Regions from separate parts of the Homo sapiens genome. Here all the other regions are linked to region 1. The links come from fine-mapping of genetic effects on plasma protein levels. A gene starts in region 1. Each other region holds a variant in brackets. All regions are shown on one strand. Distances are between the middles of the regions.

What was found. PIP is the chance, under the fine-mapping model, that this variant and not a neighbour inherited with it causes the effect. Protein levels are from the aptamer-based SomaScan assay of Sun 2018.
Region 2: its variant is fine-mapped to the plasma level of the ASPN protein (Sun 2018, PIP 0.95). The variant lies in the coding sequence of ASPN. If it changes the protein, the assay may bind it differently, which can mimic a change of level.
Region 3: its variant is fine-mapped to the plasma level of the ASPN protein (Sun 2018, PIP 0.95).

The regions. Positions count from the first base shown.
Region 1 is chr9:92,479,174-92,487,173 of GRCh38, reverse strand. ASPN (asporin) reads left to right here and starts at 4,668. Exons shown (of 8, transcript NM_017680.6): 1 at 4,668-4,881. The region is part of intron 5 of CENPP (centromere protein P); the gene reads right to left.
Region 2 is chr9:92,463,034-92,471,033 of GRCh38, reverse strand. The region is part of intron 5 of CENPP (centromere protein P); the gene reads right to left. ASPN (asporin) reads left to right here. Exons shown (of 8, transcript NM_017680.6): 3 at 253-365; 4 at 4,463-4,676; 5 at 6,005-6,115. Among named protein-coding and RNA genes, the nearest start is that of ASPN, 15 kb to the left of the region's middle. The variant G/A (reference allele first, on the strand shown) is at 4,653.
Region 3 is chr9:92,230,962-92,239,397 of GRCh38, reverse strand. All of the region lies in intron 30 of IARS1 (isoleucyl-tRNA synthetase 1), which reads left to right. Among named protein-coding and RNA genes, the nearest start is that of MIR3651, 57 kb to the left of the region's middle. The variant AT/T (reference allele first, on the strand shown) is at 3,884.

The DNA.
Region 1 (8,000 bases):
AGAGGTAAGAAATTTATTTAAAACAAAACCATTACTTGTACAGATTCCTCAAAGCAAACTGACTTCAGACATTCATTAAAAATATTTGACACAGCTGGGTGTGGTGGTGCACACCTGTAATCCTAGCGCTTTGGGAGGCCGAGGCGAGCAGATCACCTGAGGTCAGGAGCTCCAGACCAGCCTGGCCAACATGGCAAAACCCCATCTCTGCTAAAAATACAAAAATTAGCCAGGCGTGGTGGCCTGCACCTGTAATCCCAGCTACTCAGGAGGCTGAGGCAGGAGAATTGCTTAAACCCAGGAGGTGGAGGTTGCAGTGAGCTGAGATTGTGCCACTGCCCTCCAGCCTGGGTGACAGAGCAAGACTCCGTCTCAAAAAAAAAAAAAAAAATTGACACATGCAAAATATAATAAACAAAATTGTATAAGTCCTTCATTTTTCATAAATTCAACGGAATGAACATTTAGTGACAATTTATTATAATTCATTTTTCAGAACTAGAAACTTCAAGTAGGATGACAGAGTGAGCTCAGCCACATGACACAGCAGAAGCCAGTCCCTGCAACAGGAAGAGCTGTGAGGAGAGGGTAAGAGGAGGTCAGGGCAGCAGAGAACCATGGAGGGCCTACGTGCTCAGCAAATTGCTGCTACATAGGACATCAGGGTCAGTTTTTCCAGCTCATATTTTTCCAAATACATTGTAAATTTGGACTTCGATATCAAATGTCCTGGTTTTTAAAAATACTATATGCTCCAAACAATCTGCATGTTGAATACTGCCCCTGGGTCACAACCTACAGTATAAAATAAGTTCATTAGAAACCGAAGTGCCTAGTCCACCATGAGGGACACTTGAACATTAAAACTCATGAAATCTTAATCACTTATCCCTTCACAGAAGCTTTTTTAAGCATCTACTATACAAAAAACCCTATGTTATGCATATTTACATCCTAGAATTCAGTGGCCTAGAACATTCTTAAAGTGGGTGTTTGCATGGCACGGCTAACTCCCTCACAGCCCTCAGGTCTTGTGACTGTCACCTGACAGGGAGGGCACCCTTGACACCCCCACCCCTATCCTGCTTCTCTCCATAGCACTTACACTATTTGTTGAATGAATGGATTGGTGGACGGCCTTTCTTGTAGCTACTACTATAAAAGAACATTGTACAATCTATTCCAATTCATTTAGAATGTGAAGGACACCACAGACTGGCAAAAGAACATCAGAAAATTCAAACTGCCTACTTTTTTGGCAGGTGTGTGTGTGCCCCACAATATACTCCTGACACATGCTGCTCCTATAGCTCCTGCCTCACCTATCAAACCTTTTCATTTGGGCTGTGTGCAGGTGGTTCCCACCTGTAATCTCAGCACTTTGGGGGGCCGAGATGGGAGGATTGCTTTAGCCCAGGAGTTTGAGGTATGATTGTACCACTGCACTCCAGCATGGGTGACAGAGTGAGACTCTGTCAATCAATCAATCTTTTATTTGCATGAGACAGTTTCCAAGGTCCTCCCCTGTTCTTATTTGTGTTTGGACTTTGACCACTGTTGTCCATGTCTAGACCAGGAGAAGTTCTAGAAAGGGTGTGAGAAATCATACGAGAGCTTAGATTAGGCAATTTATTTTTATTTTCACGATGGTTAGCATATATAAGGCCAAAGGAAAATAAATTTGCATTAAAGTTCCTTTTATGGCAATCAATATTTTTATTCATAAACTGTCAGTACTGAGAATATTACTTTTTCAATTTTGTAATTTATCTTTGTGTTTGCAACATGTAAATTACTTGTGATTCCTAAATATACTGTTATAATGCAACTAGTTCTTCAATATTTAGACTAAGGCTCAATGAGGCAAAAATAAAACAATTTAAAAAGCATGGAGAAAAGAACTAGGTCCCCTCCATAGGACCCCTTTAGGAAACAAAAATGGAAGATTTTTCTCTTCACAATACTTGAGGGAAGAAGAGGTACACTGTTTCATTTGGAATGATAACCTGGAAAAGGGTGGAGATAAACTCCAGTTTCTTCCCAGATGGCACGTTCGTGCCTGCTGCACCATCTCTGGCAAATGTGAGGCAAAGCTTTCCATGTCACAGCCCCAAGATGGTGGAGGGTTGTGCCTGAGGCCTGCACCTTTACCACATTATCTGCAGAACAGAGTGAATAAGCCAAATATACTACCCCTAACCCCAGCATCTTATTCCAGGGCCTATTTCTTTCCCTAGGCCCTCTGACCAAAGATCGAAGCAAAATATCAGAGGAAGACTAGCTTAAGTCTCACAGTGGGGAGAAGGAAAAGTAGCTGTAACATATCTTTAGAAACACAATCTTACAGGAACTGCCTCTCAACTCTCTAGATATGGGAGGCAAAACTGCACCCAGAAAGGCCATGCAGGCAACTCGACTGAGGAGTGCCTTGGGTGGGTGACGTGGACAACATCCTGTGAGTATAGAAGAGAAAAACACAAGTCCCAGAGACAACAGTTGCCATGCAAAACCAGAAATCACAGACTGGGAAAGCCTAATTTTTAAAGAGAAGTTGAAATCTTATTTTTAAATACAGCAATTTCACCTAACAAAAATACATACACATGACCCCCAAATGACAGACTGAGGAACGTTCATAGTACCTCTCCAAAAGGTAATTAATCTAGTTGAATATATAAACAATTTGTGGCTTATTCATGTATGAGAATACTATACAGTGACAAGAATGAACTACTGTGTATCACAATGACACGAATGGATCTCAAAAGCATGTCACTGAATGAAAAAAGCCAGATGCAAAAGAGAATGCACAGTATGATTCCATTTATATAAAGTTCAGGAAATAACCTATGGTGCTGAACTCAGGCTGTGACTTGAGGAGTAAGAGGAGGGATTCTGGATGTATGAGAATGGAGTGTGAGGCTGGGATTTCTTGATTGGGGTCATTTTGTAAAAATTAATTGAGTTGTACCATTATGATATGTTTTTTTTTGGTAACATACACTTCAATAAACAGTTCAGAAACAAAACATTGTGCAGGACAAACTGAATTTGACCCAAGGGCTTCCTGTTTATGACTGTGTTCTGAAGGAATTTAGGCAAACACTAGATGCTCTGGATACAAAGATTTTAAAAATCCAGTTCATATTTTCATTATGTTCCCAATTCATCCAGTTAACAGATACATTTGCAACTGAAATATACTTGAATAAATGAGAATATGAGCATTCTAAACCAAACAGGAGGGCCGTCATTCCCTAAGGTGCTGCAGGGCTAGGATGGGGCCTGAGTTACAGAGGGCCACTAATGGGACTACCGAGCTGCCTGGAACTGTCAGCCTAGAGGTCCAAGGAGGAGTACTTTATTTAAGTGAGGGGAGGATGAACACATAGCCAGCTGCTATGCACATCTGAGGCACATGTATTCTTTAGGACTGTAGCTGCCTTGCTTAACACAATGTGTGCCATTTCTCTGGAGAGAGGGAACAAACGATGGTCAGACTCTTGATGACAGTAGAGAACAGGTCTTCTAACCCACTGGAAAAGCTCTTTGCTGGCCTCCAAATCTATACAACAGTTGGGAAGAACCATTGGGGTCACTTACAACAGTAAGTCCTTGCCACTAGGGTTAGAAAACTGTCCTCTCAGGCCGGCCATGGTGGCTCATGCCTGTAATCCCAGCACTTTGGGAGGCCGAGGCGGGCAGATCACGAGGTCAGGAGATCGAGACCATCCTGGCTAACACAATGAAACACTGTCTCTATTAAAAAACCAAAAAATTAGCCAGGCGTGGTGGCGGGCGCCTGCAGTCCCAGCTACTCGGGAGGCTGAGGCAGGAGAATGGCGTGAACCTGGGAGGCAGAGCTTGCAGTAAGCCAAGATTGCGCCACCGCACTCCAGCCTGGGTGACAGAGTGAGACTCCGTCTCAAAAAAAAAAAAAAGAAAACTGTCCTCTCTTGAAGGTCTTAGTTGATGTAGAATTGGGCAGTCTCTTGGGGATGAGTGGAAAGGGGGTACAAATAATGATTTATTTTCAGGAAATAGCATCTTCCCTGCTCTAAGTCTCCCTAAATGTCAGTGAGGCCATAGCTAATATTCTCTTGAAAAGGGAAAGTTGTATGCATCCTAAGAGGGTGTTACTTGGACATGCATGTGTGTCTGTGTTATATCACATATGTTGAGTCCAGGGAGCAGTTCATGGAGCCTCATCCATAGTTTCCCTGACATGCTATAGCAGTGCTAAAAGCTTAAAAAAAAAAAAAAGTCTGGAGAAGTATGCATAATGCAATAGCTACAGTCATTAGAAGAAAAAAAAAGTATGGTTCTTTCTCAGGTACATCTGAAGTTTGGGTATATACTTCAGTAATGTTGGTATCCTTTATTCAGATTGATAAATATTTTATTAGTCTATACAGGTTGAGTAATTTTTGAAATTGTAATTTACAAATATTCATTCACTTAAGAATCTAATATTTTTAAAACTAGGTATTTCTTGAATGACTCCGACTGCACTTTCAATGGCCAGTTGCCATGCATTATTAAACTTTCTTTTTTTTTCTTCTTCAGAATCTTCCAGTAGACGTCTAGAGTTTAGCTAGAAGTCTTGGCTACGATACAAACAGTGATGGAAAACACATGAGCAGTAACAAGTTTTAATCTTGCTCCTCAGTACTAACATGGACTAATCTGTGGGAGCAGTTTATTCCAGTATCACCCAGGGTGCAGCCACACCAGGACTGTGTTGAAGGGTGTTTTTTTTCTTTTAAATGTAATACCTCCTCATCTTTTCTTCTTACACAGTGTCTGAGAACATTTACATTATAGATAAGTAGTACATGGTGGATAACTTCTACTTTTAGGAGGACTACTCTCTTCTGACAGGTATGTTTCATGTCTATCTTACAAGTATCGATGTATACTTTACAGTCAATACTAAGGAGACATTAATGTTATTAATAAATGCTTATAAATAATAGGATAAAGTCCAAAGTTTATCTCTATAATTTCTTAAAAATCAGCATTTAAATACAAACCTAAATTTGTACCTAAAATTATTCTAGTTTTATGTCTTACCTATAATGAATGTATTTTAAATATAATTATGTGACTTTTTTTTTCAGCTAAGTGAAAACCTGTCATTATGCCTTACCATAAATGTTAACATGATTGATTTTAAAAGTCATCTAAATAAACATCTTGTATGTTTATCTAGGAAAATAACATTGCTATAATAATGATCATGAAGTTTGGGGATATCACAGCTATATTAAATGAAACAGTAAATATATTTTTCAATATTTAAAATATTTTCTAATGTGTATTTAAAATGTGTGAATTACTGAAATGTCAATTTTACTTATACATTTGAATATTCATTTTTTTCCTTGATAAATGTCTTCCTTATTATAATGAAATGGCACTGAAAAGTTCAAATGGAAATCTATTCAATTCCAAGAAAGAATACTTATCAGCAATAGTTTAGCTAGCACTATATTCAATATGAAAGATTAGGAAATTTTCACAGCATGTATACAGTCAGAATTTAACACTTTCAAAGATTTCCTTTGTCTACTCCCAAAGTAAATTTCTGATTAAATTTTAGATTAAAAAATTTAAGCAATGTATTCAATATTCTACTCCCTAGTAATCTAAATAGCGCACAGCATTCTTTCATGTTAATCTATTCAGAGGTGTGGCACCCAGGAAACAGTGGCCACATGGTGTAGGGACTGAGTCATAAAGAACCTGAGGGGGTTGTATTTCCCTAAAAATAAAGTTGTTTAAATCCAAGAATCAAGCTGTTAAAAGAAAGAAATGAAAAAAGAAAGAAAAATCGAGCACAAGCCCACACACATAAAAGGATCCTGATGTTTTTAGTTTGTTTTTTGGCATTAAGGAGTATAGTGTAGTAGTGGAAAGAACAGAGGATATATAGTCTTCTGTTACAACTAACTACTCAATTAAAAACAAATATTCTGATAACTGATCTGAGGTTTGAGACAAAAACAATTAACTTTACAAGCACAAGTCTTGAGGCACTGTGGGAAACATCATAAAAATGGAGAGGCAGTAGATTTTGTTTTTTAAGACAGTAGCTTGATTGCTAGACATGTGGAGAAATTAATGAAGGGCAAAATTAGTATAAAAGGAAGAACAGCTAGAATGCTTTGTCAGAATGCTAGTTATACTTCTAAGGTAAAATTAACTACTTTTTAAGGAAAGTGCTATCTTTATCAGTATCCATGAACAAATGGTACTGTGAATAAGTTTCCAAATGCATGTTGGACTTTTAACTCATTTGTTAGCTTACAAGACTATGCCTTGATTACATCTGAATTTGGTTTGGATTCCTTCGGTGAAATATATGGAGTATGTTATATCACATTTATATGCTGAAATCTGCTACTGGTACCTGTGAACTGATAGGCATGTTTAAACCCAGGGGAAAAGTTGCCAAGCGGGCCTTTAAACATGGGATTTAAAAGCACAGTGACTTATTTACCTAATAATAGTGTCTGAGAGGAAATACCATTTCACTTAGATAAACTTTCTAAGTTTGTAGACCAGTTAAATGGAAACAAGAAAGCTTATGTGCTTCTTAAGCTTTATTTCCAGTCCATATGTTATGAACTCTTTTAAGAACTTGGCCAAACCTCCTTACCTAGGCTTTTCCAGAGGAAAGTCTGTTTACTGTCTGGAAGTAACTATGAGATTAAAATCCATTTAGGAGGACATGCAGTCTAGTGCAAAGCACAACCAACAAGCAGTGAGGAAGCCAGCCCTCAGCTCCACCACCTCCAGCCAGTTCTGGACGCTCACTGCCTCTGCTTTTTCTCAGTAAAAGAGGGCCATGGGGGGAAAGTCTCAAAGACCTCTCTTAGCTCTAGGCTACTATGATTTATTAGTAATAGCAGTAGCACTGGAAGAATACTCCAAACACTACTCTGATTAAGAGAGACTTGAAACCAAAATCCAAAGCTTTCCATGAGTGGAAAACACTGGCAAAACTGGTCTAAATCAGGGAAATATTGAGTATTCCTGAGAAGAAGATTTAATATTTTTAAAGGGTTTAAAAATAGAGTAACCTGAATACTGCCAAAACTAATAAAACAGAGGTTGTACCTCATTAATAAACTCAAAATAAAACAGCCAAAAGTCATATCATTTTAAATGACATATAATATTCTCTACATTCTTTCTGAATAATAAGAAAAAAATACTGCTATCTAGGGTTCTCTCCTAGACATTCCATTATTTTCCTATTGGTAAACAGTTGCACACTGAACTGGGGGAGGTTTAGGACCTATACTTGATTGTACTTATTAACAAAGCAGTGGAAGAGACCCAGCAAGAGACTCAGGTAAAGAGTGTAAATAATGAATTCCTCATGGTATCAAGGTTGGCCTGACTTTTTTCTTTGCAAGCAACCAGGATACACAAATGCAAAAGATTAGATTAATTGTAAAAGGCTAACAGAAGACAGAACTAGCAGAGAGAAATGAATTTTCCAGAAGGCATTTTTGAGTTTCCATATAAAGACTTTCCTAACAGCCATGGATGGACAACTGTGGAAGATGCTGCCTTGAGGTAGTATCCTCTCCCTGGAGCTATTCAAGCAGGGTGGATATGCTCCCTGTTCCAGAATGTTCTGGAACCTTCACCACCAGGAGGAACTCCTGTTTCAAAGGTCTTCATCTCTTATTCTCCAGGAAAGGGCCTAACTACTATATAAAAGTGGCTGCCTCCACTGCTCAGCAACTGGAATGCTTCCCAACAGCTAAAGATAATGCTACTGCCTAAAACTTGCAGGCAGAAGTCTCCATTTCATATTTTAATTTTACCGCAGTTTTGATTAAAGGCAGGGAGGGTCTCCTGTAACTTATCAGTCTCAGAAAGAGGAGAGACAAAGGAAGGGGCCCCGGCTGATGCTTCTCCTGATGCCACTGGGGGACTGGTCAGCAGCCCTGAGGCAGGGATGTGGAAAAAAGCAGGACCACTAC
Region 2 (8,000 bases), 16 kb after region 1:
TTATTCCACCTTAGAGGGGATGAGTAGTGACAACTATACCAATCTAGACACCTTGTAAAAATTAATAAGTTACTCAAAAAGGTCCTGAGGTCTTCCCCCAAAACAATGTTTTTTTTGTCATCTGTTATGACTGTTAAGTCATCTGTAACTTGATGATAATCATGGGTTTTAAAAAATGTATATTTCTACCATATTAGTAATCTCATCTTCAGCATGATTCTCTATTATATAATATGTTTGTTTCTTTCTAAGGTTTGACCTCAGTCCCAACCAACATTCCATTTGATACTCGAATGCTTGATCTTCAAAACAATAAAATTAAGGAAATCAAAGAAAATGATTTTAAAGGACTCACTTCACTTTATGTAAGAATATATCCTCATACTTTCAAAGATTTAAGTGAAAACTCTGTATCTTTGCTATAATGATTAATTATACTATGTTAGTATAAACAAGTCTTACTTTTCTGTAAAGAATGACAAAAATCCCTGCATTCAACAGCGTTCTAGTCAATTAAAAATTATAGATTTCATTCAATTAATAGTCTAATTCAATGGATGTTTATTAAATAATAGCCATGTAAAATGTAGTGGGCTGAGTTTAATGGTCCTCAAATAAGCTTACAATCTATTCAGGTAGTAACAGTCACTATACATTAAAATGAACAAGAAAACAATTACTTACAGCAATCATTAGCAAACAGTGTAAGAAATCTCTACCCAAACGTGTTAAGACACCACAAATCTCTAACAGCAGCACACAGAATATATCTGATTGATTAATATATACATGTATGGCTTATTTATTGGATCTTTAAAGAAGAAAAGAATTTTTTCTTTACTGTATTAGTATCATTTTAATATTCTAGGATTTAAAAGATTACTACTTCCATGTTTAACATTTTGGGCTGGGTGTGGTGGCTCATGCCTATAATCCCAGCACTTTGGGAGGCCAAGGCGGGCGGATCACTTGAGCCCAAGAGTTCGAGATCAGCCTGGGCAACACAACAAGACTCCACCTCTATAAAAAATACAAAATTAGTTGGCATGGTGGTGGTGCACGTAGTCTTAGCCAAGAGGTAGAGGTTGCAGTGAGCTGTGACTATGCCACTGCACTCTAGCCTGGGTGACACAGTAAGACCCTGTCTTAAAAACAAAAACAAACCAAAAAAATCATTTCGAAGTCTCCAGATTTTAGCAAGTAAAATTTCTGATTTAGTCTGAAATTGGGTTTGGAGGAGCACCTCATTTCCCCCGCCACCGCCTCCCCTCAGCACAGCTCCTGCCTCGCTGACTCTGGCATGGTGTTAGAGGAAGAGCTCTGGTTCTGTATCATCTGAGGTGGTAAGCCAGGCCTGGCTATTCCAGGCCATTTCCCCACACTCTCAGGCTGTGCTGGAGAAAACAAATTTAAAGTCTGTCATCTCTAGATAAGATAAAACTAAGAGAACAGGGTAGAAAATACCATAACAATATTAGCCCCTTGCTACCATGCAGGCCTGGCCTGTTCCTGTGTCTGAGAGATGTGGGGTCACCATGCCTCCCTGTCACCCTGGGTCAGTGCAGTGGACCCTGCTGGCCCATCTCTTCCTCCCTGTCACCCTGGGATTGAGGACATGCATGCTGATCATACTTAAGGCAGACTGAGGGATGCTCAATCCTTGCATCAAGCCTCCCTACAAAATCCAGCTCTCACACTGCCCGGTCAGGTAGCCAGCACCTTGTCTGCTCTTTTCACTTTCAAAGTGTGCAGGCAGCTCAGATCTGGTAAGCCTCCATTATCAATATAAAAGAGCAACTAGAAGAGCATATATTTATAAGTTAGGTCTCACTAAAACATTAAGACAGTCAGAAATGACACAATGGATTCCACCGAGGATCCACCCAGTCCACCCCACTAACTTTAGGCCACAGAATCTTTTGGAGAATGGCAGGCCATTATTCCACCAACAGAAGTTGGAAATATAGCCTGTTGATGCGTTTACCACTTCTTCAACCCCTTTTCAGCTTAGATAACCACAAGAATAATAACTAATGGCATATTTAATACTGGGGCTATGAAAGTTTTAAATTCATCATATCATTATTTTATTACATTTTAGGAGCATTCCAGGGACTTAGTCCATACTTATTCTTGTTATTCACAGGGAAATGAGAAACTAAATGGTATCAGGAGCTTTCTTAGACCTACTTGATTTCCTTTGAGAAATGCATGTCAGGTGTAGAGCAATGGAGGGAAAGCCCCCAGCTGTTAAGTAGTATTACTGCCAAGCTACTATTAGCAGACTGACCAGGTGTACTGATGTAAATCACTTTTTAAAGTACATGCTTTATACTTGAATTGTAGGTATACCACACAATTACAAAACATTTATATAATTATAGTATCACCTTATATGGTACCTGTCTTTTAAGAGAATCAAACTATTTTTTAGACATTCTACAAATTCTCTGTGTTAAGTTTTAGCTGCTTGTTTGGCACTTGGGTTCTTACACAAAGGATGATACAGTCAGAGCAAAATCACTGAACACAATCACAGCCCTCCCAGCTCACTTCCAGCCATTATGAGACACATGTGGCATGAATCACTGTCCTACTACTGAATGGCTATGCTCTTCTCATCTTCTGTCCTTACACTGTTTGTTAATGATGAATTGGAAGCTCTGTGATAATCAAGCCAGCACTGAGAGTGCAGTTTAACTGGATCACTCAGCCAGCTCACCATGCAGGGCAGGCAGTCCACCATGTGGCGCGGCTCTTACCAGTGCTGCACAAAACCTCTTACACAGTTTTGTATTACTTTTCCTTCCTTTTATGCAGTTCCAACAACTGCATGTTTTAATTAGGAAAAACAAACTAATAAAAGCCCAGTGCACTAGACTTGGATCTCACTGACGCACAGGTTCACTTTGTGGTGGGGCCTCTCTAACCCTCACTTGTTGCATGGCATAGGCAAGTCACCTTTCTTCACTTTACGCATTTCCTCATCACTAAAAGGAGAGTAATAATTCCTGCTAAATTTACCTCTTGGAATCAAGAGAGGATTCACAAACCATCTTGATGATCCACCAAGTTGTTAAATTCCCCTCACCTCATTTTTCAGTGTAACCAAAGGAAAAGAGAAGATACTTTTAGTTGGCATCACACACTCACAAACGAGGATATTTTACCAGTTGGTAACAAAATGTAGTTTCACCTCTTCTCCTAGGCTTACCCTTTCTTGGTGAAACTTTTAGCAATAGTGATATATCTGGAATTTCCAGAGGGTGAGAAAAGGAAAGCACAAAGGGCCAAGAGTGAGATGAGGAAACGTGCAGATACAAGTTTACTGAGCAACCAAAATGTGTATTTCTGCCATGGAAAAACAACAACAATATGAGTAATACCAGTGAGGCATATTAAACAAAGGGAGATTTTTGTGAAATGAATTTGAGAACAAAATCATAAAATGAATGAATCTAGAGCTGCTCCTTGAGAAAATCAGATGACCTGGATTGGTAAAGAGGGACAAAAAGGTCCTGAAGACGCTTAGTGGCCTGTCATCATTCTTGGTAAACACAGAAATTCTCTTTGAACAATCTGGCAAAGAGTAAAGAACTGAGCTATGCTCATTTTGCAATGAAAATCCTTATCAGAGTTACCAACATGTCCCAGTTTGCCTAGGACATTCCCAGTTTGGGTTCTGAAATCCCCACATCCCATAATCTCATGATCTGGGCAGACTGAGATGGCTGGTCACCCAAGCAGCCATGCACCCTTGGACATGTTGCAAAAGACTTGTGCAGAGAGCACACTCACACTGGTACGAGCTCTTTTTACTCTCTGGAGTTATTAGACCTCCTCTGGAGGATGCTGTCTTATTGCCCTGAGAAATACCCAAAAAACTGATAAGAGATTGAGTCATTTCTCAGGATCCATTACTATATCCCCAATATCTAAAATATGCCAGAATGCTGAGGGCACATGGTAGGATTTTTTTCCTTACAGGCCTCTGTTCTGGGAGAAATGGTAAACATTAGTAAATATGAAAGAAATGAGGTTTTCAAAGTAGACAAAATCATGCAAAAGTATATTTGGTGTGCACTAAACATAGTTTTGTAGAGTAAATAGATTTTAAGATAAGATAAAGATAATATCACTGGTCACTTCCCTGAAGGGAAATAGGAGGCTGAGTAGAGGTTGAAGGCTTAGCCATATGAAAGTATTATCTATTCAAAGATTAAAAAGATGCACTTCTATCTAAACCAATGGCACAACATTAATTATTATAGCTCTGCACTTTTCTAACTCAGTAGTAAAATTTTTTTAAAAGCTTAGATTGGGCTGGGAAAGTTTTTACATGGGTGATCTAGTACACCACTGATATAAATTGTACTGATTTCCATCATTGGCTAATCACTGTAGAATACTGGTAAATCAAATCCACTTCCTAATATTGTGTAACTTTCTATGCTTGATCAAGGGTCTGATCCTGAACAACAACAAGCTAACGAAGATTCACCCAAAAGCCTTTCTAACCACAAAGAAGTTGCGAAGGCTGTATCTGTCCCACAATCAACTAAGTGAAATACCACTTAATCTTCCCAAATCATTAGCAGAACTCAGAATTCATGAAAATAAAGTTAAGAAAATACAAAAGGACACATTCAAAG[G/A]AATGAATGCTTTACACGTTTTGGGTAAGTTTTTCAAATGAATGGGACATCTTGAAATTATAACAAACAAGCAGATGTAGAACACTTTATCGTCACTATTAAGAATAATTTCCAAAATTAATTTTTGAATAATCTTTGCCTAGATAAGCCATTTATAAACCAATTAAAATGTCCAACAAAATGTTTAGCACTTAAAGAAAATATGATCTTCGTAATACTGTCTCTCTCTCCCTGAAGAACCTCCTTTGAGGCCAGGCCTGGTGGCTCACGCTTGTAATCCCAACACTTTGGGAGGCCAAGGCGGGCGGATCTCCTAAGGTCAGGAGTTTGAGACTAGCCTGGCCAACATAGTAAAACCCTGTCTCTACTAAAAATACAAAAATTAGCCGGGTGTGGTGACAGGTGCCTGTAATCTCAGCTACTCGGGAGGCTTAGGCAGGAGAATTGCTTGAACCCAGGAGGCAGGGGTTGCAGTGAGCCGAGATTGCGCCACTGCACTCCAGCCTGGGTGACAGAATGAAACTCCATCTCAAAAAAAAAAAAAAGAACCTCCTTTGAAACACTTAGCGTGGTTTCTGTTTCTGACCAGACCCTAATAAAATATAACTTATTATTTAATTTAAAGGTAGTATTTTTAATGTATTGCATAAGCTACTCAAATATAATACACAAAATTAGTTTGGATATTATTTGGAATGTGCACCTAACATTTGGTTATCTGCTTTAAGATTATCGATGTGAGGAATTTTTTGTCTTATATTTAAAACTCTACCTGATTTTATTTCTGACACCTATCATATAACCATGCCATCTCCCTATAATATCCATTCAAAATTCATAACCAAGATACTAATTCATTTATTCATTTAATTCAACCAAGTGCCTGGCCTCACTTACTGGCATTTCTTCAAGGTTATATTTCTGCTAACAAAACAACAATTTCTAATTGACTTACAATTTAAAAAAAGTTTAAGACACAAAAATGTACACAGAAAAACATAAACATTTTGGATTATATGAAGGATGATCTTTTTTGATGCACTATTACAATAACAAAACCTTAATTGTGCTCATGGTTGGAGGAGAGTGAAAATGTCACTGATATGGTAATTCAAAGTGAAAAATAGTGAACTTCTCATATATTCCAGTTTACATAATACAAAGCCGTATTTTTCTGATGCTGACAGAAAGGACAGTAGATAGACAGAAGCAGATATACCGAGTGAAAATGAGCCTAAAGGATGAAGCTCACGCTTCTTGGGATATTCATTCTTGGGATGTGTCTCTCTGCACTGTGAGTTTCCTTTATATACAACCTATGTGTGCTAAGTCATGTCATTCTCCCCTGACAGAAATGAGTGCAAACCCTCTTGATAATAATGGGATAGAGCCAGGGGCATTTGAAGGGGTGACGGTGTTCCATATCAGAATTGCAGAAGCAAAACTGACCTCAGTTCCTAAAGGTTTGTATTTACTTTATCTAAGATATGGTATTTTAAAGTTGTCACCTTTCAATAACGATTCAATCTAATATTGTAAACTGTGCAGTATACACTGCAACTAGAAATCTTTGCACCAGTAAATCTGGTCAATATAGTCTACACACACATAAAATGCCATATGTAGTGCCTTTTTCCTGACAGAATTAAGCCACAATTTTTTTTACTCCACTAAGAATAAACATTAAGAAGCAATGAACTTTTAGTTTTCCTTCTCTTTCCTGACATTTACTCATTTATACCTGTCATTCTGTGCAGTACCTGTTAGAGGTAGAGAATTCTATACAGAAGAAAGCAGAGAAAGATAGATGGGGCAAGAGACCCTGTCCCCAGGCATTTAGCCACAGTTTGAGGTGAAGCCTATGAGCCCAGACTGGGCAGCCCCTGGCTCTGGCAGGAATGGACATGCCATTCAAGGCAAGGCATTTTGTACCCAGCTTCTTCCCAGGTGTACTGTGAAGACTAATGGGCCAATACACAGAAAGGTCTGAGGACAACATCCAGCACGTAGGAAGTGACCACCTGTGACATAATCATTACCAAGATGAGCACTGTGCTCTTTATCATGGCTTTGTGTGACCCAAGGCTAGCACCTCAAGTAGAATGCTCCTTAAGTCTGCCAGATGACCAGTGTTCTAACCCATTACTTCCAAGCTCCCTGTCTGATGATTAGCTGCATAGGATTGCCTTTCTTGGAACTCTTGCTCAAAGTCTTGCTTTCCTTATTCCCAACAAGGGCACATGCTCTCTTTGCTTTGATGACTAACTGGGCCAAAAATAACCCCTATGATTAACAACATATTTTTACTTTCCAACAGCTCCGTCTTTCAGTATCCATGAGTTAAAGCAGCAACTTCATCACGACCCCCTCTAATCTACTCACCTGATCCAGAAGATCAATAAAACAAACATATACAGATAATTTAAAAGACACAGTAAAGCTGTTATTATTAATCAAGAGGTGACCTTTCACTTAGGTCACCTAAAGATCATCTAAAGTAAAAGAGGAAAAATAACTTTTCTATCCAGGAAAACAACAGTTTAATTCAGAACTATACAAATCCAAAAAAACACCTCAGTGTAGCTTTAAAGGAGGTGGATGTTTTTCTACAAGAAACCAAAAATGTTACATTTACCTTCCCATTTTAGAAAAACAACAAAAAATGCAAATGCTACCCAATAAGTTAAACATATAAAATCCCTTTCATCTGCTGGAAGATAACATCCAGTAAAGGAGAGTGAAGACAAGGAAAAGAGGAAGGTAGAGGGAGGAGAGGAGGACAGCCTACAGGGCTGGAGGAGGGAGCTGCTGTTCCAGGCCACATCTCCTGACATGGCCATTCTTTATGTTCACACCAAAAGTCTTTCCTACACTGCAAAATTCTATTTAAATTTCAAAGTGTATCTTAAAAGTAAAGGTTTAACTTCTCATGAGTTTTCAAGATTCTTTCAAAGCCAAAAGGAATCTTTAGAAATTTAAATTGGAATCAAATCTCTCAACTTAAATAACTATTCCTTCAAATCCCCTTGACATTCAGAATTCACTAACCTGTGAAAGCTGACTGCCTGCATGGCATAATCCAGTCAGTATTACCCCCTGTGGCAAGATGAAAGGATGCAGGTATCCTGAGGGTCCTTACCAGACCCAACAAGTTATCATGTGGACAGGATGAAAATGTCTTCTTTCCTATTCGTTCAGGAAGTTCTACTGCATAATATTATGTGGGGAAGAGGGGAGACCTGTTTGAAGACAGGGTGGGAACAGAAATTCCGGTACAAAAGTGTGCTAACATTTGTCAGCAGTTACTGAGCTTCTGCCAAATTCACACCTCTGCTCGTTTTATCCTAG
Region 3 (8,436 bases), 250 kb after region 1:
TCAGGAACTACAGAGGCCAGAAAATGAAAAGGCAGCATTTTTCAAGTGCTGAAAGATAAGTATTGTCTACCAAGAATTCCATATCAATCAGAAATACCCTTCAGGATGATGGGAAAATAAAGACATTCTCAAGTGAAAGAAAACTAAAAGAATCCGTTCCCAGCAGACCAGTCCTAAAAGAGTAGCTAAAGGATGTTCTTACCACAGAAAGGAAATAATGAAAGAGGGAATCCAGAAACATCAGGAAGGAAAAAAGAAAAATGGAAAATCAAAATGGAGGGTAATTCAATAGACTTTCATTACTCTCATGGGTCCAGCAAGCACTATATCATTGTTCGATGTGGTTCTCTGTGTATATACACTAAGGCCTCAACATCATCAGTGAGTTCTTGGGTCCTGCAACTTTAAGTGAAGTGATGTACTGTGTGCCATGGGAACTTAACTCCTGTGGTAAAGTTGGTTTATTATATAGTACATCATTCTGCTTGAAGTCACAGTTTCCAAGAACCTACCAGCAACATTAAGGATTTACTGAACAAGAAATAATAGTTAAGACAATTACAAAGGAGCGAGGTTTCTACATTTGTCACAAACCGGTAAAATATTGACACCAGTGGACCTTAGGAAGTTATGTTTATGTTAGGTACTACTTGGAGTTACCACTAAGAAAAGACTATACCACAGGATACATATAAAACCCTAGAAAAATAAAAAATGGAACTCTAAAATATGTTTTAAGTAACTGTATTAGTCCATTTTTCATTGCTATAAAGGAATACCTGAGGCTGGCTAGTTTATAAAGAAGGTTTATTTGGCTCACAGCTCTGCAGGCTGTATGAGAAGCACGGCACAAGCATCTGCTTCTGTTGAGGGCCTCAAGAAGCTTTTACTCTGCTTTACAGAAGATGAAGTGGGAGCAAGTGTATCACATGATGAAGAGAGGGAGCAAGATAGAAGCCAGGCTCTTTTAAATAACCAGCTATCGCATGAACGAACAGAGTGAGAACTCACTCATTACTGCAACAAGGGTACCAAGCCATTCATGAGGGATCGGCACCAGTGACCCAAACACCTCCCACTAAGCCCCACTTTCCCACATTGAGGATCACATTTCAACATGAGAGTTGGAGGAGACAAATATCCAAACTATATCAGTAACCCACAAGAAGCTAGGAGAGAAAATCAGAACAAATATGCCAGGCACAGTGGCTCACGCCTGTAATCCCAACACTGGAAGGCCAAGGCAGGCGGATCACCTGAGGTCAAGAGTTCAAGACCAGCCTGGCCAACATAATGAAACCCCACCTCTACTAAAAATACAAAAATTAGCCAGGCTTGGTGGCGGGCGCCTATAGTCCCAGCTACTCAGGAGGCTGAGACAGGAGAATCGCTTGAACCCGGGAGGCGGAGGTTGCAGTGAGCCAAGATCACGCTCCTATACTCTATACTGGGTGACAGAGCGAGACTCTGTCTCAAAAAAACAAGCAGAACAAATGAAAGATTGGCATATTGTTAAAAACACATTAGCCAAGTATATGCTGTCTATAACAAACTTCTAATATAATGATACAGGTGAGTTGAAAGTAAAAGGGTAGAAAAATATATACTATGCAAACATTAATCAAAAGAAGCAGGAATGGTCATGTTTGTATTAGATGAAACAGACTTCAGAGCAAAGAAAATTACCAGGGGCATTAAATAATGATAGAAGTGTCAGTACACAAAGAAAACAGTGATCCTAAATTTATATGCGTCTAACAAAAGAGTTACAAAATACATGAAATAAAAAGATACAGACATTAAAGGAGAAATAGACAAATCTACAACTATAGTTGGAGACTTCAAAGTACCTTTTTCAGTAATCAATAGACCAGTTAGAACACCTCAGCCAAAAATAGCAGAATATAAATTATTTTTGAGCTCTCACAGAACTTTGCTGAGATACATTATAACCTGGGCCATAAAACAAACCTCAACCAATTAATACAGTTGAAACCAGAGTGTGCTCTCTGACCACAGTAGAATCAAACTATTAATTAGTAATATAATAATGAAAATCTCCACACTCTTAAAAATAAACAACATGCTTTTAAATTATCCATGATTAGGGAAGAAGTCTCAAGAGGGAAAGAAACATAGAACTGAGTGTAAAGGAAAATACGACATCAAAATATGTGGAATGTGGCTAAAGCAGTCCTGAGACGGAAATCTGTTGCACTAAAAACTGAAAGAAAGATGGTTTCAAGTCATAACCTAAGGTCTAAACTCAAGAAACTAGATAGGAAAAAAAGGCAGAATAAATGCAAAGTAAGAAGAAGGAAAAACATAAAAATAAGAGATCAGTGCAATTGAAAACAAAAACGATAGAGAAAATTAATGATACAGAAATCTGGTTCTTACCCAAAAATTCAGCAAAATTAATAAACCTCTAGTGAGACTAATAAAGAAAAAGAAGACACAGTTGCATATCAGGAATAAAAAGAATTATTGATACAGATTGCCAAAATCAAAAACGCAAATACTATGAATAAATCTCCATATGTAAGTTTGACAACTTGGATGCTTGTCGCCCAGGCTGGACAGTGCAGTGATGCCAACTCAGCTCACTGCAACCTCCACCTCCTGGGTTCAAGTGATTCTCATGCCTCAGCCTCCCGAGTAGCTGGGATTCCAGGTGTGCCACACCACGCCTGATGAATTTTTGTATTTTTTTGTAGAGACGGGGTTTCACCCTGTTGGCCAGTCTGGTCTCAAACTCCTGGCCTCAAGTGGTCTGGCCTTCTTTGGCCTCCCAAAATGCTGGGATTACAGGTTTGAGCCACTGTTCCTGGCCTGAAGTGAACCCTGTTTCTAAAAAACACAAACTACTACAACTCACACAATATCAAACAGATAATTTTAATGGCCCTATAATTATTAAGGAGATGAATTTGTAATTTAAAATCTCTGAACTAATCTCCAGGCCCAGTTTCACTGGAGAATTCTTACCAGAATTAACACCAGTTGTACACAGACTCTTCCAGAAAATAGAAGAGGAAGGAACATTTCACTCATTTTATGTGGTTATTAACCTGCTACCAAAACCAGATAAAGACAGTATTAACAAAAAAGATAGGCTGGGCACGGTGGCTTATGCCTGTAATCTCAGCACTTTGGGAGGCCAAGGCGGGTGGGTCACCTGAGGTCAGGAGTTGGAGACCAGCCTGGCCAACATGGTGAAACACCATCTCTACTAAAAATACAAAAATTAGCCAAGCCTGGTGGCGGGCGCCTGTAATCTCAGCCTACTCGGGAGGCTGAGGCAGGAGAATTGCTGTAACCTGGGAGGCAGAGGTTGCAGTGAGCTGAGATCGTGCCATTGCACTCCAGCCCAGGCCGACAACAGCGAGACTCTGTCTCAAAAAAGAAAAAAAAAAGATAGAAAACAGATATTCCACATGAATATAAATGTAAAATTCTTCCCAATAAATTATTAAATAGAATTCAGCTATGTATACAAAGAATTATGCACCATCACCAAGTGGGATTTATTCCAGGGATGCAAGGCTGATTCAATATTTAAAAATCAATCTAGTCCAGGCGAGGTGGGTCACGCCTGTAATCCCAGCACTTTGGGAGGCTGAGGCGGGTGGATCACAAGGTCAGGAGTTCAAGACCAGCCTGACCAACATGGTGAAACCCTGTCTCTACTAAAAATACAAAAATTAGCCGGGCATGGTGGCGCGTGCCTGTAATCCCAGCTACTCAGGAGAGTAGGATTATTGAGGCAGGAGAATTGCTTGAACCTGGGAGGCAGAGGTTGCAGTGAGCCAAGATCGCACCACTGTGCTCCAGCCTGGGCGACAGAGGGAGACTCCATCTCAAAAAAAAAAAAAAAAAAAAA[AT/T]CAATGTAATTATCGTATTGTCAGACTAAAAGATTACATGAGTATAGCAGTTGATTCATAAAAAGCATTTGATCAAATTCAACACCCATTCATGATGAAAATCCTCACAAAAATAGGAAGAGATGAGACCTTTGTGGACTGGATAATGAGCATTTTGCAAAAATCCTACAGCTACCATTATACCTAATGGGGAAAGCCTGAATTCTTTCTACCTAAAATCAGGAACAAGGCAATCACAACTCATATTCGACATTGTACTGGAAGTTCTAGCCAGTGGACCACGGCATGACGAGGAAATAAAAGTCATGCAGATAAAGAAAGGAATAAAGCTGACTCTATAGAAAATCATAAGGAACATACATACAAACACCTGAAAAAATAAGCCAGGCTTGGTGGCTCACGCCTGTAATCCCACTTTGGGAGCTAAGGCAGGCAGATCACCTGAGGTCAGGAGTTCAAGACCAGCCCGGCCAACATGGTGAAACCCTGTCGAAAAAATATAAAGAATTAGGTGTGATGGCGGTCACCTGTACTCCCAGCTACTCAGGAGGCTGAGGCAGGAGAATCACTTGAACCTGGGAAGCGGAGGTTGCAGTGAGCCGAGATCGCGCCATTGTACTGTAGTTTGGGCAACAAGAACGAACTCCATCTCAAAAAAAAAAAAAAAGCTCATATTGCCTGGTTTTAAGATGTGGCCTGGGATCACCATATTGATCTTCCCATGCCAGCTGCTCCCATGATGGTTGTGTGTTTATTTAGACCTGTGATGATGTCTCAGACAGTACATGGTTCCCTGAACTGCTTTGCAACTTCAGTGATGTTGTATGGCATTGAGCTGGTCCATCACTGCCAACATCCTGGCTGTCTCAGGTTACCCTGTAGAAGGAATCGGATGGTCAGTGGTGTGCATCAGTAATGTAAACAAGAACAGTGTTCTTGTACAGAGGGCCAGCAGCATGAGCAGTGATAAGACAGGTAGGGCCTATTTTCCCATCTACCAACTCCAGGACTGGCCATTCCTGGGTCAGTTGACCAGACACCTGGAAAGAAGAGCTCTCAACTCCAAGATTATTTTCTTAGTAATAGCTTTAAATGCAGCCACAGCTTGGTCGTCTGCCTTAATATGATTTGATATGTTTTGCAATTTACTGTCCTGCTGAAAGCATTCATATTATGAGGGAAAAAACCATACAAATCATCGCTAAATCTGTTATTTTTAAATGTTTGGCCTTTTTCTATACCCTTTGGATTCAAGCATTAATTGGGTTTCCAAAGTAATTGAATAGAAATCATATTGCTTATAAAAAAGAAAAAAACTTTTGAGTCACAGGATGTAAGATAAACATACAAAAATGAATTTTATTTCATAATAGCAATCTATACTAGCAATGAACAAGTGGGCAATGAAATTAAAAATGTGGTATCATTTACAGTCACTTAAAAAAAGATGCTAGGTCAGGCGTGGTGGTTCACGCATGTATTCCCAGCATTTTGGGAGGCTTAGGCAGGAGGATTACTTTAGCCTGGGAGTTCGAGACCAGCCTCGGCAACAAAGTGAGACCCCGTCTCTACAAGAAATAAAAAACTAGGCAAGTGTGGTGGTGTTCGCCTTTAGTCCCAGCTACTTGGGAGGCTGAGGTTGGAGGATTGCTTGAGCCTGGGAGATGGAGGCTGCAGTGAGCCATGATCATGCCACTATACTCCAGCCTGGGCCACACAGTGAGACCTTGTCTCCAAAAAAATATTCAGATGTAAACCTAATAAAACATGTTGGGACTTGTATACTGAAAACTTCAAAATAGTGATGAAAAAAATCAGACAAAATCTAAGTAAGTGGAGAGACGTGTATGGATTAGAAGATTCAATATAGTAAAAATGTATCTTCTATCCTGCTGTGGTTTGAGTGTGTCCTCCAAAACTCAGGTTAAAATGTCATTGCCATTGTGACAGCATCATGAATTAGTTAATTACTTCACAAGAGTTATGATAATTCTTACCCAGTCCAATGGTGTGATCTTAACATCAGAAACCTGTACTTGTCAGAGTCCTTTCCATTGCATCTCCTCAAAGATGAAACACTTTAGATTCACTGTTGCTTACAATAGTTTTCAGGAAAGTGCCAGAGTAAAACAATTAACTATCGTTGGATGACAAGACTTTAAATGGCCATGGTTAAATATCTAATGAGAGTTCATTATACTAATGTTGCAATTGACAAGGAAGTTTAGTTATTTCTGTGGTATACAGCATTTTAAGGTAACTAGAATTATGACTGATAACATTAGACCAGGCTATCAGATTTCTAAGAATTTCACACAATTTCTGGAACACATTATTTGTACAAGTTAAAGAAGGTTAAACAACATTTCTTATTTGACAGCGCTTCCCATGCAGATCTAACGTAGTCAAATAAGTCTAACTTGTTTACTGTTTCTCTTCATAATGAAAGAAAATTCTCTTGAGATATTTCAGGGGGCCTCTGAAAGCTCCCAAAGTTAGCTTGAGGTCAGAAAGACTTAAGTTTAGAGTTTGATTTTGGGAAGCTAGTAAAAAATATCAAAGGCTTAAAACACTTGATTAATAGGATTGCAGGTCACTGAAGCTACAGTCACTCATTTAACCAGAGTGATAATTAAAAATATCAAAGGCAAATATAGAAAGTCACAAAGTTATAAAAAGACCTGAGCAGTTTTAATAGAGAGGACTCTGTTTCTCTGTTTTCTTTTCTGTAGAGACAGTGTCTCACTACACTGCCCAGTCTGGTCTTGAACTCCTGGACTCAAGCAATCCTCCTACCTCAGCCTCCCAAAGTGCTGGTATTATTAAGGCTTATTAATTTGATAATTTATAAATAAATTCATTCAGAACTTACCCAGGTTGACCACACATAAAATTCCTTTTCCAAGATTCCTCTTCCACAAACCTACTACAACTTTCTCATACCCTTCTGTTTTGGATTAAATTCTTCCTCTTACTGTGAAACAAGTCATTCTACTATAAGGCAAAAGTTAGTCTTTTTCTCTTAACGAACACACATCCTTCATACTTCATAGCTTCACCTTACCAAAACCATGTCTTTTCCTCACATACAGAATCATTTCTCTTATTCTAGTTATAACTGTCACATCAGCATTCTATAGATTGGCAAATCTATGAATCAAATTTGTAGAAACATATGCTTCCTTGTAGTATAATTTATGTTCCACTATTAATGCTTCAGTATTTTATTTGGAAAATATCTACATATCCAATGAATATTCATCATTTAAATTAACAAAACCCCTAGGCTGTAAATTACCAGTGGGGAGCTATTTTTGAGTAGACATAACACAAACAAAGCTAGCTATCATTAAGTTATTTCTCTGTTAGCTACTTTTACAGCATGTGCATGTTCGGCAGTCTTCACAAAAACAAGAATCCTAAAAAGTTTAATAGATGAGATTTTTTGTTTTTTTGCTGCACTCGAAAAACGTGAAGTAATGGATACTGGCACCCACTTGCACATTGTTCATAGGTTGAACTCATAGTTGTATAATTATAAATATGTAGTGGAGGTAACATAAACTTATTTGATAATAAATCCTGGTAGGATTTAAAAGTTGTATATCTGCATTATATATTCTTACCCAAGTCACATGAACTTGAAAAGCATGTGTGTTGGTTTCTATATTGCTGAGAGAATACTTAATTTATGTGAAATGCTTATTTTTCTTTAAATCAATTAAATAGAAATCTTTTATGAATTAATTTTTGACCATACCATCTGGAGGTAGAAAAACATCTCATGGCTGGGTGCGGTGGCTCACGCCTGTAATCCTAGCCCTTTTGGAGGCCGATGCAGGCAGATCACCTGAGGTCAGGAGTTCAAGACCAGCCTGACTAACATGGAGAAACTCCATCTCTACTAAAAAAAAAAAAAAAACAAATACAAAATTAGCTGGGCATGGTGGCACATGTCTGTAATCCCAGCTACTCGAGAGGCTGAAGTAGGAGAATCACTTGAACCCGGGAAGTGGAGGTTGCTGTGAGCCAAGATCATGCCATTGCACTCCAGCCTGGGCAACAAGAGCAAAACTCCGTCTCAAAAAAAAAAAAAAAAGAAAAAAATAACACATATACGTAACATACCTACATGCACAGGCATGTATAAGCATACAGATAAGCAGATTTCTTAGCTTTCATTTGAAAACTGTAGCCATGTGCTAGGTACTATAATATAAAACACACTAGTTTATGAAACAATAGCTGGATCAAAAGTATATTCCCAGCAGATGGAATAAATTAAGGTTACTTACTTAGGTGGCCAAAGTGCTCTACTAGTATTTTTGGAAAAGTCTTAAGATTTTTCATTTAAACATTAAACAAAGAGTTTTAAAGCCTTGACACAAAACACTGTCCTTAAAAGGGAAAAGTGATATATTGAACTAAATGAAAATTTAGGTTTTGCTTTGAACATCCTATAAAAGGATGAAAGACAAGCTACAGACTGGGAGAAAATCTTTATAAAACAACATATTTGACAAAAGACATATCTAGAATACGTAAAGATCTT